2 separate regions of the Homo sapiens genome follow, and region 2 is linked to region 1. Evidence: fine-mapped expression QTL. Tissue or cell type: whole blood. Region 1 holds a variant in brackets; the other region holds the start of a gene. All regions are shown on one strand. Distances are from middle to middle.

What was found. PIP is the estimated chance that this variant, and not a neighbour inherited with it, causes the effect.
Region 2: MTAP starts here. The variant in region 1 is fine-mapped to the expression of MTAP in whole blood (TOPMed, PIP above 0.99).

The regions. Positions count from the first base shown.
Region 1 is chr9:21,848,979-21,857,181 of GRCh38, reverse strand. It overlaps MTAP (methylthioadenosine phosphorylase), which reads right to left. Exons shown (of 8, transcript NM_002451.4): 6 at 2,312-2,551. Among named protein-coding and RNA genes, the nearest start is that of MTAP, 50 kb to the right of the region's middle. The variant C/T (reference allele first, on the strand shown) is at 3,917.
Region 2 is chr9:21,799,635-21,807,801 of GRCh38, reverse strand. MTAP (methylthioadenosine phosphorylase) reads right to left here and starts at 5,166. Exons shown (of 8, transcript NM_002451.4): 1 at 5,021-5,166. The coding sequence starts at 5,053. RefSeq lists a cis regulatory region at 2,592-2,593, enhancers at 2,521-2,665, 4,324-4,533, 5,028-5,656, 5,657-6,287 and a silencer at 4,824-4,983.

The DNA of each region.
Region 1 (8,203 bases):
CCAGCTGTTGGGCTTCACCCAAAATGTCCTTCCTACTGACCTTCCCAAAATAAACCCTCTCTTCAAGGTGCAGTTTAAATGCTTTTCCCTGATACTACCCACCTCTCAGGCCCCCCACTCCATCAGAGCCACCATCTGATGACCACCCTCTTACAAGCCAGCATTATACTAGCTTTTTTACATATCTCATTTGGTTTAATTCTTCCAGTAATCTTTCAAGGTCTAACTGACTAAACAATGACTAAACAACCTCCACTCCTCACCCAGAGCCCTGGCTTCATTCTACAGAAGAGTAAACAAGTGAAATAACTCGCCCAATGTGACAAGCAAATGGAGCAACTCAAATCTGAAGATGGGTTTAGAGAACTCCAAATCCTTTTTGCCATGCCAGGCTGCAACACACGATTGGCTGAAATAATGCCATCTTTCTGTGGGCCTTCCTTGTAGCATTTAACACTGTCTTCAAGCCTTTCCACTTACAGAGCTTAATTTCTCTGCTTTTCAATAAAGTAGCTCCAGCTGACTATTTCCCCAACCTCATTTGGCTACTAAAGGAAATCACTGCTGGTTCTACAAAGGAGGAGACATATGTTATTAGACTGAGCAGAAAGCCACAGGCAGGAAGCAAACCGCTCTCAGGGTGTGGCAGGGGCTGGAGTTTCCTATTAATTGGAAGCAGCTTCTTGACATTACGAGGCTGAGTTGTTCCTTAGGTTACCAAAGCTGCCAAATAAGATATTATGTTGTGACTTAATGTAATAATTTGCGAATCTCTTACATAAAAGGCATCCTAGTACTAAGCAAACAGTTTATTACACTGAAGAGTCATCATAAGGAATTCATGAAAAACAAAGAACCTGTGTTCATCTATGACCCAAAACACTGTACACATTAGATAGTAAAACAAACTCTCTAAAACGGTGGTACAATATTAGGCCTCTTTGGAGATGTCACTTACCCTAAATGTGCTCAGAAAGTCACCCCTAAATGTTTTCCTTACTTCAAAAGTGACTGCAGTTTTGTCGTCCCTTTATCTTAAAATGAGATAAATGACAGGACGAACGATCTAGTTTATTCAAGTAACACAAGGAATAAAAAGAGAAAGAGGTGAAAATTAGATTAAAAGAGACAAGAGGTAATCATTAAAATACAACATATGGATTGTAAGGGATTCTGATTTGATCAAATTGTTAAAAATTATGAGACTGAAGGAAAAAGGAATAGTCTGAATATTTGATTATATTAAGAAATTAATATCATTATTTTTGTACAATGATGGCATGGTTATAACTTAATTTTAAAAAGACCTTTTAGGAAAATATTTACTTCACAATGAGGGCAGGGGAGAAATAGGTAGGGACATACCTATCACACAAGATTGGCCATGGCTAATTGTGGAACCTAAGTGATGGGTACCTGGAATTCATTATATTCCACCCTGTACTTACACAGATGTTTAAAGTTTTGTTTTGTTTTGTTTTGGAAGCTGACCTCATTGTTCCAGTGTCCTCAAATTCCAGCTGGATCCTGCTGCCTTCCCTGCCTGAACCCCTCACTGTCCTTCCATCTGAAACCCTTACCATGGTCTGTATGGCCTGGCCCTACTGTATTGCATCCCTCCTCTCTCTCCCTTCTCCCCAGTCTCCCTCCTTTCCACTCTACTCAATCATGCCCTTCTTGCCCATCACACTTAAAACAGGAAGGCTTCTCATACTTCAAATATTTGGTCTGGTCAACTCTATTCAGTTGACCTAGTGTACCCTTGTACCTCACCATTCTATTTCTTTATAACCGTTAGCTTTCTTATATTGGTTTGCTTAACTTCTATCTCCATCCGACAGAATGTCGGCTCCTTAAGGACTTCTCTGTTTGTTGTCACATTTCTATGCTGAACAGAGTATCCAGCCACGGTACGTTAAATAGATGGATGTGAACATACAGCCCTCTCATGAGGAAAGGGTTAATAGATTTTTTTCCTTCTTGAAAACAAAAAACAGTAGCATAGCAGCAGAAATTGGCAATCAAAATACACCTTTATCCTGAAAATAAGGCCCAAGTCTTAGTATGATTCTCAACACATCTACCTGCCTACAATGTACTATTTTCACTACTGATCCTTGGGTAAAAGTGTCTCTTTCTTTCCTTTGATCTTTGTTCTTACCTTCCAATGGAACTACAGAAAATATTAACAACTTCAAAACCTTGTAGAAAGGCACTTTCTGAAACTAACGTAATAGAAACAAACAGTTAAGACACCCTATTGGCACCCAGAAACCCATGCTATATGTGCTTAGAAAAGAATTCCACCTACTGCTTCCTCGTGCTCCTTCCAGCAGTCATAATCTGTCGCCATGGCGATACTTGCGTAACAAATTCCAGCCTCCTTAGCAAGAACCACCTCTGGAACTGTGGTCATGTTGATAACATCCGCCCCCCAGGTGCGGAACATGAAGCTTTCTGCCCGGGAGCTAAAACGAGGTCCCTCGATTGTGACCATTGTCCCCTTTGAGTGGCACCGGAGTCCTAGCTTCTTAGCAGTCTCTATAAGAACCTAGAAAAGAAAAACCAGAAACTTCAAAACATACTAGCACATGCACAACTTAAGGCTGCACTTCCCCCCAATGTTTACCAAGTTGATTTCTTAAAGATGATTTGTCACTATAATAAATGCCTACTATCTGCCAGGCTCTCAGAAAAAACCTAGAGGACCACAGAAGGGTGTTTCCTGGACCCTTTCTCATTCACATAATCCTGTTTCCCCAGCCCTTTGCATGTAGAAACTAATAGCTACACAAGCAAGCACTGAGCTCTTTCTACTCGCCAGGCATTTGTTTATATGCTTTAATCTCATTTGCTTCTTAACAACTTTAAGAGACTAAGCTGGTTTGAGAATACAGACTGGAGTCTTAACTTTTAACCTCGCAGGCTAAGCTAAGGTGCCTCTCGTCGCTTATCTTCTCAAACAGGTGTGTTGAGTTCTATTTCCAGGCTTCTGAAAAGTTAATTCTCATTACTTTTAAAAATACAGAATCTGAAGACTTCTGTAAAAGCTTTTGCTGGTTAGAAAGTGATTTCTCTTTTGCCTATTGCCTTTCCACAGAGTTGTGCTGATTGTTTTTCTGTTCACAGGGATAAACATCTTGGAATTCCTTTAGTGGCAAGGCTAGGCATGGATTTTTAGAAACATCATTGAAAAGTTCGATCCTTTTCTCCAGTGTTTTATTTAATACTGCACATCTAATCTTCAAGTTATTAATTACCTTCATTTTTTCTTAGCTTATTCAATATTCCCTTTTAATTAAAAAAAAGTCTTTTCAACTTAACTGTTAACTTACTGAAGCACTGTTGAAAAATCATCTCTGTATGCCTTAGTTTTCTCAAGTGTAAATTGAGAATAATGATATCGCATAATTCAATTGTATGAGGAAGATTAAATGAACTAAGGTATATACAAGCATAGAAGCATGCCAGGTGCGCTGTAAACACTGTATGCACTAAGCTGGTCTTCTAACAATCATTAATACTGGCAGCTTCTACACATATTTGGCTAACCTTCCTGGGATACTATATAAATAAAGTGGAGTGACTCAAAGTCAAAGTCTCCAATCTGGGCAAAGTCTCACCTGCACATGTGTTCATCACATAAACAAATTAACCTATTTCCTTAAAAAATAACTTACACTATGCCACTGCAATGGGAAACAGAATTTTCACAAGAGTCTTGGCAACTCAAAATTTAGCAAGCTATGGACAATGAACAGTTGATGCTACATCATGTTTATCTTATAAATGCTGAAAATAAAATTATGCTTAATTAACACTTTTCCCTAAAAAGTATATGTTATAAATGCAAAAGCCTAAATCTCTACCCCACCCCCTTTTCCCCCCTAAAGTTAAGACATAACAAGCCCACTCC[C/T]GCTGGTTCAATAATGTCTTTAAAGATCCTGAATAACTGAACCATATGCTTGGCTAAAGTTCACAGTGCTTCTAGAGATGAATGGCTCTTGACAAGTCCTCACTGTCACTCTGGCACTTTGGGAGATAGGTACCATGCTTATGAGGAGGAGGAAGAAATGGAGGCTATGAATATATGTCAGCCACCTGAACCAGCATTTTGCATTCCTTCAAGAACAGCTAACACTATCTTAAGGCAGCAAAAAATATCAAATACAGGGTCAAGGTCCAGGTCTGAGTTTAAGATGATTTCATTTTCTTACCTCGTGTAATCACTGAACTACTAAACAGACGGATGTGGTAGTGAAAGTACCACAACCCTCACCAAGGAACTAGCAATATTAGATCACCAGCCTAAACAGATTTAATGTCAGGACTTTCATATTAACTCCTAAAATGAATAGAAGTAACACTGCTTTTGGAACACGTATTTGTACATGGTACAAAACTTAAATAGTACAAGGAAAACCACTGTCCCTTCCCAAGGGAAACCATTATTACCAGGCTTTTTTTTTTTTTTCATTTCAATAGTTTTTGGGGAGCAAGTGGTTTATTGTGATGTATATAAGTTCTTTAGTAGTGATTTCTGGGATTCTGATGCACCTGTCACCCAAGAAATGTACACTATACCCAATGTGTAGTCTTTTATCCCTGATTCTCCTCTCCCACTTCCCCCAGAGGCCCCAAAGTCCATTACATCATTTTTTTTTTTTTTTTTGAGATGGAGTCTCACTCTGTCGCCCACGCTGGAATGCATTAGTGCGATCTTGGCTCACTGCAACCTCTGCCTCACGGGTTCAAGCAGTTCTCTGGCTCAGCCTCCTGATTAGCTGGGATTACAGGCACCCGCCACCACGGCCAGCTAATTCTTTTCTTTGTATTTTAGTAGAGACCCCTTTCACCATCTTGGCCAGGCTGGTCTTGAACTCCTGACCTTGTGATCCACCCACCTCGGCCTCCCAAAGTGCTGGGATTATAGGCATGAGCCACTGCGCCCGGCCCTATTATATCATTCTTATGCCTTTGCATCCCCATAGCTTAGCTCCCACTTACAAATGAGGACATAACGATATTTAGTTTTCCATTCCCGAGTTACTTCACTGAGAATAATGGTCTCCAACTCCATCCAGGTTGCTGCAAATGCCATCATTTTGTTCTTTTTTATGGCTAAGTAGTATTCCATTGTATTAGTCAGAGTTCTCTAGAGGGACATAACTAATAAAGGGGAGTTTATTAAGTATTAACTCACATGATCACAAGGTCCCACAATGGGCCATCTGCAGGCTGAGGAGCAAGGAGAGACAGTCCAAGTTCCAAAACTGAAGAACTTGGAGTTTGATGTTGGAGGGCAGGAAGCATCCAGCATGGGAGAAAGATGTAGACTGGGGGACTAGGCTAGTCTCTCTTTTAACAATTTTCTGCCTGCTTATATCCTAGCCATGCTGGCAGCTGATTAGATTGTACCCACCCAGATTAAGGCTAGGTCAGCCTTTCCCAGCCCACTGACTCAAATGTCAATCTCCTTTGGCAACACCCTCACAGACACACCCAGGATCAATACTTTGTATCCTTCAATCCAATCAAGTTAACACTCAGTGTTAACCATCACAAGTCCACATGAATCCATACACATCTCCTGAGATCATACATAATCTTCAAATAAAGACAATAATAAGGTCATAATTACACGTAACATAATACAGCTATCCTTTGTGCAACTGGAAATGCACCAAACACCAACCCAAATACTACTACATAAAGTTAGCAATACTTAAATGTTGATGTGAAGTCAATAAATCTCATGTCATATGATAAAGGAGAAAGAAAATACAATGAAGATATTTTCTTAGTACAACTGTATATATGCACAAACATGTTTTTAACAAAAGGAGGAGGAAATACTCATGACAATTACAGTCCTCATTTCTGTAGCTGGTCACATGGTTGTAGCTGGTATCGATGACTACCTTCTTCTACTACCCATTCTGTATTCCCTTTGCCTTTATCAAGGACCTCAGTAGGTTGTGGTTTTTTCCTTGTGGAGTGACTGAAATCTTCATTCCTGAAGAGTCTGGGTCATTTGTAGTCCTGCCTGGATTGGGCTGTTGTAGTTTCCCAATGACCTTAATTACAGGGCATGGTAATACTAAGAGACACCCTAATGGATCTCCTGTATTCCATGTGTACTCTTCTTTACTTCCATTGTGGAGTAGTAGACTGATTTCATCTTGATAGTCTGGGTCAATCACCCCAGCCAGCACTGTAACTCCCTTCTTAGCCTGTTGACTTAAAGGCAGGAGGAGCCCAAAGTGTCCAGGTGGCAAGGATGGAGGCCATGCACGGGCACAGCAAAGTGCCTTCAGGACCTGCTTGAGCCCAGTCATATATATACCATTTCCATTTGATAACTGAATGCTGCTGTGCACAACCCACTTTATGGCTAGATGAGTCAGAAAGCCCCCAGTTCATGATAGGCAGTTCAGGTCGCATGGTGACTTGATGACCCATAGTCAAAAGTTCACTTTCCACCAAAGTCCAGTAACAGGCCAAGGACAGTCTCTCGAAAGGAGAATAGTTATCTGCAGAAGATGGCAGGACCTTGCTCCAAAATCCTAGAGGGCTCCACTGTAATTCACCTATGGGGGCCTGCCAAAGGCTCCAAACAGCATCCTTATCTGCCACTGACACCTCAAGGACCATTGGATTTGCTGGGTCATATGGCCCAAATGGCACAGCAGTTTGCACAGCAGCCTGGAACTGTTGCAGAGCCTTCTCCTGTTCTGGACCCACTCAAAATTGGCACCCTTTTGGGTCACTCAATAGATGGGCCAGAGTAACACACTCAAATGAAGAATGTGTTGCCTCCAAAATCCAAATAGGCTCACTAGGCATTGTGCCTCTTTCTTGGTTGCAGGAGAGGACAAATGCAGCAACTTATCCTTCACCTTAGAAGGAGTATCTCCACAGGCCCCACACCACTGGACCCCCTAGAAATTTTACTGAGGTAGAAGGTCCCTGAATTTTAGTCAGATTTATTTCTCATCCTCTGGCATGCAAATGCCTCACCAATAAGTCTGGTGTGTTTGCCACTTCTTGCTCACTGGATCCAATCAGCGTACTGTCATCAATGTAATGGACCATTGTGATATCTTGTGGGAGCAAAAAGCGATCAAGTTCTCTCTGAATAAGATTATGACACAAAACTGAAGAGTTGATATACCCTTGAGGTAGGACAGTCAAGGTATACTGCTGGCCTTGCCAGCTGAAGGCAAATTGCTTCTGGTGGTCCTTATGGACAGATATAGAGAAAAAGGCATTTTCCAAGTCAATGGCTGCATACCAGGTACCAGGAGATGTGTTAATTTGCTCAAGCAATGAAATCACATCTGGTACAACAGCTGCAATTGGAGTCACCACTTGGTTCAGCTTATTGTAATCCACTGTCATTCTCCCCAAGACCCATCTGTCTTCTGTATGGGCCAAATGGGAGAGATAAATGGGGATGTGGTAGGAATCACCATCCCTGCGTCTTTCAAGTCTTTAATGGTGGTACTAATCTCTGCAATCCCTCCAGGGATGTGGTATTGTTTTTGCTTTACTATTTTTCTAGGTAGAGGCAGCTCGAATGGCTTCCATCTGGCCTTTCCCACTGTAATAGCCATCACTTTACCAGTCAGGGAGCCAGTGTGGGGGTTCTGCCAGCTGCTAAGTATGTCTATGCCAGTTATGCATTCTGGCACTGGGGAAATGACCACAGGATGAGTCCAGGCACCCATAAGACCCACTGCACGTCAGACCTGAGCTAAAACTCCATTAATTACCTGACTTTCATAAGCCCCTACTTTAACTGGAGGACCACATGACAGTTTGGGTTCCCTGGAATCAACATCAGCTCAGAGCCAGTGTCCAGTAGTCCCTGAAATGTCTGATTATTTCCCTTTCCCCAGTGCACAGTTACCCTGGTAAAAGGTCGGAGGTCTCCTTGGGGAAGGACGGGAGAAAGATTCACAGCATAAATTGTTGGTAATATAGTGGGGTCCTTCCTCAACGGGACCTGGCCTCCCCTTCATTCAAGGGGTTCTGGGTCTGTAAACTAGCTCAAGTCTGGAAATTGGTTGAGGGGCTGTGAGTCTGTTTTTATAATTCAAATTAGTTTTTTGTCCATTTGACCTAGAAGTTTCTGCTTATGTAAATTAAGTAGGAATGCAGTAGGCCTCCTATGAATTTTACTTCTAGGAATGCTGTGATT
Region 2 (8,167 bases), 49 kb after region 1:
CCACTCCTGGCAAAAATAAAAAATCAAAATAAACTTCCTCAAAGCAACAAAAAAAGCCCTTATTTCCTCCTTTTACTCTGCTGAGCAGTACAAAACCTGGCTGCTCCTACCTCTCTTCAGCAGGTAGTCTTTTTTGGGATTTAGCCTTGGGGTCCTCAACTAAATGTCAAACAGCTCTCCTGGGGGTATCTGGAAACAGGGCTATTTCTGGCTGTCATGACTAGGGGGAGTGCTACTGGCATTTCTGTGGAGGAGGTTAAGGGTTGTACTCCATGTCCTGCAATGCTTGGGACAGTCCTACAAAAGAAATAATTGTCCTGCCCAAAATGCCCTTGTGTCCCTAGGCAAAAAAAATGAAGGCTTGTTGGTCATGTGATTTTCAACTGGGGCCTGCAGGTTGTCCTCAGTTTCAGATAGCCACACAAGGACTCTCAGGCTGAAGGCCCTTGCAGGCCACACTCAAGACAGCAAAGCAGGGAGTGTAAAGGCCCATATTCCACAGTCTACAAACCATGACTTGTCCATCTCCCTTAATATCATTATGTTGATAGCTCACTACCAACCTACAATGGGACCATATCCCCTCCTTGTCACAGCAACCATGATTAACAAGTTGTTGTTATTATTATTATTATTTTGAGACAGGATCTTACTCTGTCGCCCAGGCTGGAGTGCAATGGCGCAGTCTCTGCTCACTGCAACCTCTGCCTCCTGGGCTCAAGAGATTCGCCCACCTTGGCCTCCTGAGTAGCTGGGATTACATGCGTGCAGCACCGTGCCTGGCTAATTTTTGTATTTTTTGTAGAAATGGGGTTTCACCATGTTGCCCAGGCTGGTCTTGAACTTCTGAGCTCAGGTAATCTGCCCAGCTGGGCCTCCCAAAGTGTTGGGATTACAGGCATGAGCCACCGCGCCTGGCCAAGTCTTATTTTTAATCTCCCAGAATGAAAGCTGGGAGGCTGCCCAGGGGAGCCATGGTACACTGCAGGAGCCCTCCAGAATGCCCTGTATCTGGGTGCCAAAGACTGGTTTGGCCCTCTGTCAGGAATACCACCTGCCCTTGGCTGATGCTGGAGGACAATGTCTCCCTGAGGTCCTCTCAGACAATGGCAGTGTTAATCCCATAGCCTCTGGCTCCTGCTGCCTCTCTCCATGGCTACCCCCCAGGTAATATCCTCACTCCCTGCCTGGACCATCTCTCACTGCAGTGAACCACAAAAAAGATTGCTTGAATTACTCTCACTCCAGGTGGCTTCCTCCCTCCCTCAACCTGCCACCCACTCTGCTCCTACAGCAAAGAGGCCCCTCAGCATCCCAGCCTCTGGCCCCCTAACCAGCAGTATCTGGGAGGAAGGAATCCTACACTCACCCTCCTTGGCTCCAAGGAGTCACTCGTGGCCCCTTATCGCCCACTTTGAAATGATCCACCAGTATCATCATCTTTTTGGTTTTCCAGGTCAAAAGCAGAAATCATCCTGTTCTTCTTCCTGCACTCCCCACATCTTATCCATCTCTGTGTTCTACCTGCAAATTCTATCCCCAATCTGATTATTCCTCACCACCTCCATGGCTCCCACCCTAGACTTCAGCCCCAGCACCAAGACTTCTGGCCTGATCTCTTAGCTCTTCCCCTGCCCACAGGCTATTCTGTATACAACAGCCAGAGTAATCATTTTAAAATGTAAATCAAATGCTGCCTCCCACTCTTAACCCTTCAACAGTTTCCAAAACATTTAAAATCAAAATTCTTGATCGCGGTCTACAAGGATGGCCTTATGAGCTGCATCCACCCAATTCTCACTGTGCATCCGTGATTTCCATTCCTACCACACTGAGCTCACTTCTGCGACATCTTGGTTTTCGCTCTCCTACCCCCATCTCTCTCCTCAGGTCTTCACTTGGATCTTTACCCTTTATCCCTATTTTCACTATCAGCTTAAGTCCATTCAGGCTGCTATAACAAAATATCTTAGGACTGGGTGGCTTATAAACAGCAGAAATTTCTCATAGTCTGGAGGCTTAGCAAGTTCAAGGTCACAGCAGATTCAGTGTCTGAGGAAGGCCCACGTTTTGGCTCATAGATGGTGTCCTCTCACTTAGTAGAGGGAATAAGGCAGCTCTCTGGGGCCTCTTTTGTAAGGGCACTGCTTCCATTCATGAGGGCTCCACCTTTATGACCCCAATCACGCCCAAAGGCCCCATCTTCTAATACCATCACATTGGCGATTAGGTTTCAACATACAGATTTTGGAGGCAGACTACTGCACAGCTTAAAATCCACCTCCCTAGGAGTCTTTTCTGACACCCCTCACCCAATGGAATCTTACTGCTGTTTCACTTTCATGTCAGTTGGTTTCCCACCCTGACTAGAATATAAACTTGAAGAAAATAAATAAAGGCCTCGCTTACTCAAAGCTGCATCCCCATTGTCTAGCAGGTATTCAATAAATATTTTTGAATAGGATTCCACCAGTAGATGGCTAGATTTGAAAGATATGCCAAATATACTGCCAATCCAAAACTCAGTGGAATCTTTCACTTGCATGAGTTAACTGCACCTCTAAAATTGAGAATGAATTTAAGATCCACCCCGTTAATATCTCTATTTTAAGAAGAGAGGTACTTGGGCTGACATTAAAGGAGTACCTGGAACTGGGCTGAGTGTGTTACATGTTACTGTATTTAAATCCAGCAACCTCTCAAAGGACCTGCCAGTGACACCAATGGGGTTCAGACACACATGTGCCTCCTATACCTATACCTGGGTGGTGTGCAGTGGGCACTGGAGGCAGCCTGCTTTCTGCATACCCTCTGCCTCCCTCTTCAAGATGGACATTCTATCAAGTGCTCATTTTAATTGTGCATTAGGTCACAAGAAAACAGGGCAGAGACCACACTTCAGATTTCAGAAATGCCTCACATCTAGTTGGTGGAATGCCAGGCTCTAGGCCCAATTCTGTCATTATCTAGGTCCAGCTGTGTAATTCTGGATACTTAGCTGACCTTTCTGGGCCTCAACTTTACACCCGCAAAACGGGTTTGTGTGGCTATATGGATGGTCTTGAAGGAACACTCCAGCCCCATCATTCTATAATTTGGGAATAGGATGTGGTTTTTATTAACCTATTTTGCTCTGGACACTGGCACCTCACATCTTCTATACAGAATGTTGCCTTAGAAGTCTGGGGAATACGGTGCTGGCATCATGGAATCTCTACGGCAAAGCTGTCATCTGTTCTAAATTAAAAGAGAAATCAGCAGGCAGTCCTAGCACCATATGTACCTCTTAATTTTATATCCAGAAGCTTGCCAAGACCAAAAATACACACTATTCAATATTTACATCAGGTCTCTGAGAATCCCATTGCCCATTCTGCACTTAAATGCACTGCATTAATTTGAAGGGAAACCCTGTGGCAGGGAGAATGCTAACCAGATTAAAGTAAGACTGTTTTAAACACCATTTCTCCATTTTTAATGGCGCTTGAAGTGTATTCCTGCAAGGATAAGGTGAAAAGTTGTGGCCTAATGATACCTAACACAATAACTTAATAATTTTTGGGGAAAAGATCATTCAAAATTAATCTCAGTTCCCCCACTTATAAGCACTACCACTTAATAAGCTTCTACCATGTGCAACATAGACAATATAATTCTAGCCCTCCTAGCAAATTCTGCAGTAAAATTCTCAGTTTATAGATGAGCACCTAAGAGAAGTCACATACTTCACACGAGTTTCATGAAAACCATTTCTGCCTTGTTTCCGCCAAACAATGAAGGCAGGGGAGAGGCCTTCTATAAATATTTGCTGGATGCAAGATTCTTTTCAAAATGACAAAATAAGTTTCATATATAAGTCTGGATGCAACACCCTTCACCATTCCTCTCATTCTAAGTGGCTCATTTAAACCTGCAAGGGCGTAATAAACTAATCTGGCTGATTACACACTGACCGCAGAAATTCGCCTTCTCCCGGGAAAACTGCAGTCGAGTGTAGGGAATCGAGATGCTTTGGAGAAGATCGCAGACCTTCCTATCCCATAGGCCAAAAATTTCTAAAAATCAAACAAGAACGCATTCTTAGCCAGTAATAAACTGCCTAGAAGAGGTCTTAAGTTTTATCATCAATTTTTCTTTACGTGCTGTAATTCTCTCTCGGAATACTAACCAGGAGAGAAGTGTTTAAAACCCCAGGGAAGCCAGCTGCTACTCTCAGAACTCGTGCCCTCCTCAGCACAAAGCTTCCCACCGCACAATGACCCCTTGTATCAAGGCCTCTCAGGGCCTAGGGCACAAGGAAATTGAACTCTAACTTGCAAGGCTGCAAAACAAAGCAGTTTCAAGCCAGAGGCCTCCAAACAGTGCAGCCCTAAAAACGGACGCCTGTACTCCTTTTCGAAGAAAGTCTCAGAATTCTTACAGTATTACGCTGCTGGGGAAAACTTCAGCGCGGAGAAGGCCTACGTTTGGAGGAAAAAGAAGCCGGAAGCATACAAAAGAGCAAGTAAGCAGTTCTCCCACGTGGGCCGCAGGCAACAAGCAGAGTCAGAGAGCGGAAGCTGGAGTCCCGCAAGGCACCAGGAGACGGTCACAGAAGCTGCAGGCGCCCGGACACCTCCTGACTCCAGCCGGGTGTCTTTCTTGGAAGAAGAGTGGTTCTCAGGAATGGTGGTGGCATGGGTGCAGCCTCTCCCATCCACGACCTCTCTCTCTAAAGGGGTGCCTACGCCCTACAGGGTGCGGGTGCAGATAAGCCAAAAGGTGGTGTGTGTGTGTGTGTGTGTGTGTGTGTGTGTGTGTGTGTGTGTGTGTGTGTTGGCGGTGCGGCAGGGGGATCATTTGCAAGCGTACCCTCTCCTCGCGCGGCAAGTGAGTCCCGAGTGCCGCGCCCCAGTCCCTCCCCGCGGCGGCAAGGGACGCACGGGCCGGGCGCATGGCCCCCGGAGGCGCGGTCCCCCGGCGCGGGGGCGAGAAGGCATCCGGCAGGGCGAACCGCTGCGGCTGGGAGGGCTCATCTCACCTTCACGGCGGTGGTGGTGGTGCCAGAGGCCATGTCTGCACGGGAAAGGAATCTGCAGTGGGCGAGCGCTCGGGACTAAGGGAACCAAGCGAGCCACAGAGCGGTGGCTGTGCCAACCTCACTGCGCGGGAGTGAGCAGTGCGGAGACCAGGGGCGGGCCTTGACTCCTCCTCTTCCTCCCCGGGACAGCTGGATTGGCTGCTTGTGTGGGATCTCCCCCGCCACCCCTTCCCCAAATCGAAGTTCCCGCGTTCCGCCCCTTTTGCAGACCTTTCCGGTTCTCCAGGTTTTTGTCGTTTTTTTTTTTTTTTTATCCCCAGTTATAACTAACGGATAATGATAATAATGGAGACCATTTATAGAGCGCTGTATTGTTCCAGACTGTGTGTTTTGCACTTTAATTGGCTTACTTAACTTTCGCTAAAACCTTATAAGGAAGAGCAGCACTCCCTGCTTGGCCCAATATTAGTGGCGTCGGAGGCCTCAGCTGCAAAATCTGGCCCGGCGGCATTCCAGAAGTTCTCGCGGGAGGGAGAATCCTCACCAAGGCGGGTACTGGCCGGCCACGGAGATTCTCTTAGGCAGCTAACGCGGGGCGGCCGCCGCGGCGGGGGCAAGATTTGTCCTTCCTGCGGCTGCGAACCCACCGCGGGTTTGCGTATTTCCCTTGATTCCTGGAGGACAGAGCTGGGATGGACTTGACCCAAGACTCAGGGATGACGAAAGGGAAATAAACAGAGTAACGTAGTACTGGATAATCTTTCTGATTTACGAACTATGATTTACTCATCTTCAATTTGAGGGGCCGCTTTTAGGGGGTTGAGACCTTGCACAACTCCCAGTCTGGCTCTACCTGGCTGGGGGCATCTTTAACCCGTTCTACGCCGGAGCGGCATCGAATACACCTGGATTCAGAATCCAAACTCAGGTCTCCGTCATTCAACACTAGCAGGACGCACACACACACACACCACGAGCCCTTTACAGGGATAATCCCTCATGCTTACAGCCCCCGTCCCTTCCCTACTGGGGTAATCCAATTTAACCTTCCTTGATGGATTAAGCGTTCTGAAACAAAATAATGGGTGGCAAGGATCTTAAGGGTGGACTCTGAGATGTAGAAATGCTGCAAATTAGCCTGGACGTGGGAGGAGGGCCGAGAAAGGGGATGCTTTCCTCTTTCCTTACAGCAGCAAAACACGGAAACAAAACACAAGTACAATTTAATTCAAAATACCACTGTGTGATGTTAGCCTGGATGCTGCTCATAGAACCTATTTACTTAAACAGTATAGACTTTCGTCCTCACATTACTATAAGCTTTAGGTCTAAATTTTCTCACAATGTAAAGTTTTCTTTCTTCTGTTACAATCATCTATTTCTTTTAAGTTATAAAATGCAATGGCAAAAGAAGAATGAAAGTAGAATCCGGGTGCTCCTTTGAGGAATAGGAGACAGGGAATCCTTCGCGGATGAAGACAATGTAGCTTTCTAGGGGCCTTTCTGCCGATTGCTCTATTGAGGAGCAGGAAGCCCACCACTCAGAAGTGAACCATTGAGGGCACAGGGATGCCCTAGGCTTTATGGCCGCTACCTAAGTAGGGGATCCTAGCCAACTTAAGTGACTTGATATGGTTAACAAGTCCAGTTTCTACTCAGCACTGCCTCTCTGCTAAAAGTTAGACGTTGTAACCAAGTTAGATCCTGTAAGCATAAAATACCCCTAGGCATAGGAGTTGGAAACTTGGCGAGGACCAGGCTGGACTTCTGGACTTTTCTACTATAACTTGCAGGTTAGGGCTCAAGCATTTGCTCTTGAAGATGTGATGTCTGTGAAGAGGAAATTCTTCTAAAGTTTGAATTTCATGTAAACTTACATGTGACAAAATATTATTCTACTTTTGATATTTTCTCAACCACTTAAGATTGTAAAAAAGCATTCTCAGTTCAAAGCTGTACAAAAACAGGTGGAGAGCTGGGTTTGGTCGAGGTCTTGGGCCATTGTTTTCCGCTCAGGGTAGTGCCTGAATCAGACGACCCCTTGCTACCCAGACTTGGATAACCCTTGGGCAGTCCTGTGGGACAGTGCTTTCTTTAGTGCAGTATCTTTGAAAAGGTAGGCAGTAATATTTTTGCCTTATTTCCAAATTTTGGGTCATGTTTTTTCTTAACAAGCCCTAAAATAAAAGGAAGACAAAATTTTCAATAATTTTGAATACGCAAAAATTTTCAGTGGTCTCCCTTTTTGATTACTATGTCAACAAGACAAGGAGAGTCGGTCTATTTGTGAACATAGATTTTGCCCTGCCCTTCTGTTCTTATCCTATAAATCCCCCTCTGTTAACCTGTACCCTTGCTTTTCTAAAGATAATTATCAAGAACTAGGTCACCTTACAACAATTCTGATTATGAAACAGTATAAGGATTCCAACAGCTTCTCCCTTTTTGATAATCTCTCATAAATGTCTTCCCAACTTCTAGGTCCTAGCCAACAAAGTACTGAAATGGTTATCACCAGTAGCTGACTATGTTGGGTCTTGAGCAGTGGTTCTTCAGTGTCCTACAGTTCCCTTTTACTAAACATGTTATTTTTGAAGTCGTCTCCAAACCATTCCAGAATCATCAAATCTTCAGGAGGAAGTATTCACACAAATGCATGAAATGTATCACCTCAGCCAACCATATCAGCTTTCCCACTGAATTGTTATATTTCTGCCCCTGACCAGTATGTCTGTCCTGGATGGGTACTACAAAATGGGCCCAAGCTGGCTGGTAACCCATCCTCATCTGAAGGTATTAAAGCTGGCAAGTTGTCATGGCCTAAGAAACTCACATAACTCCCCACTACCTTGTAGATATTTGGGCCAAAATAAAAATTCTAAATAACATGGAGGTGTGCTTAGAGATCCCCAATGGTGTGTGAATCACATCTTTTTACAATACACCTGTATCACAGCCACAATGAGTAGGGACATTTTGGCCACTACTTTTGACAATGGATTAGATTCCCACATTGGAAGCTTTGTGAAAAAGCTAAAGTTCTATTAGCAAGCAGCCACTCTAGATTTAGCAGAACATTGTTGAAAAAATATCTGGGGGAACAATAAGTAAACTAATTATAATAATGACAGTAATACATTTTAAAAA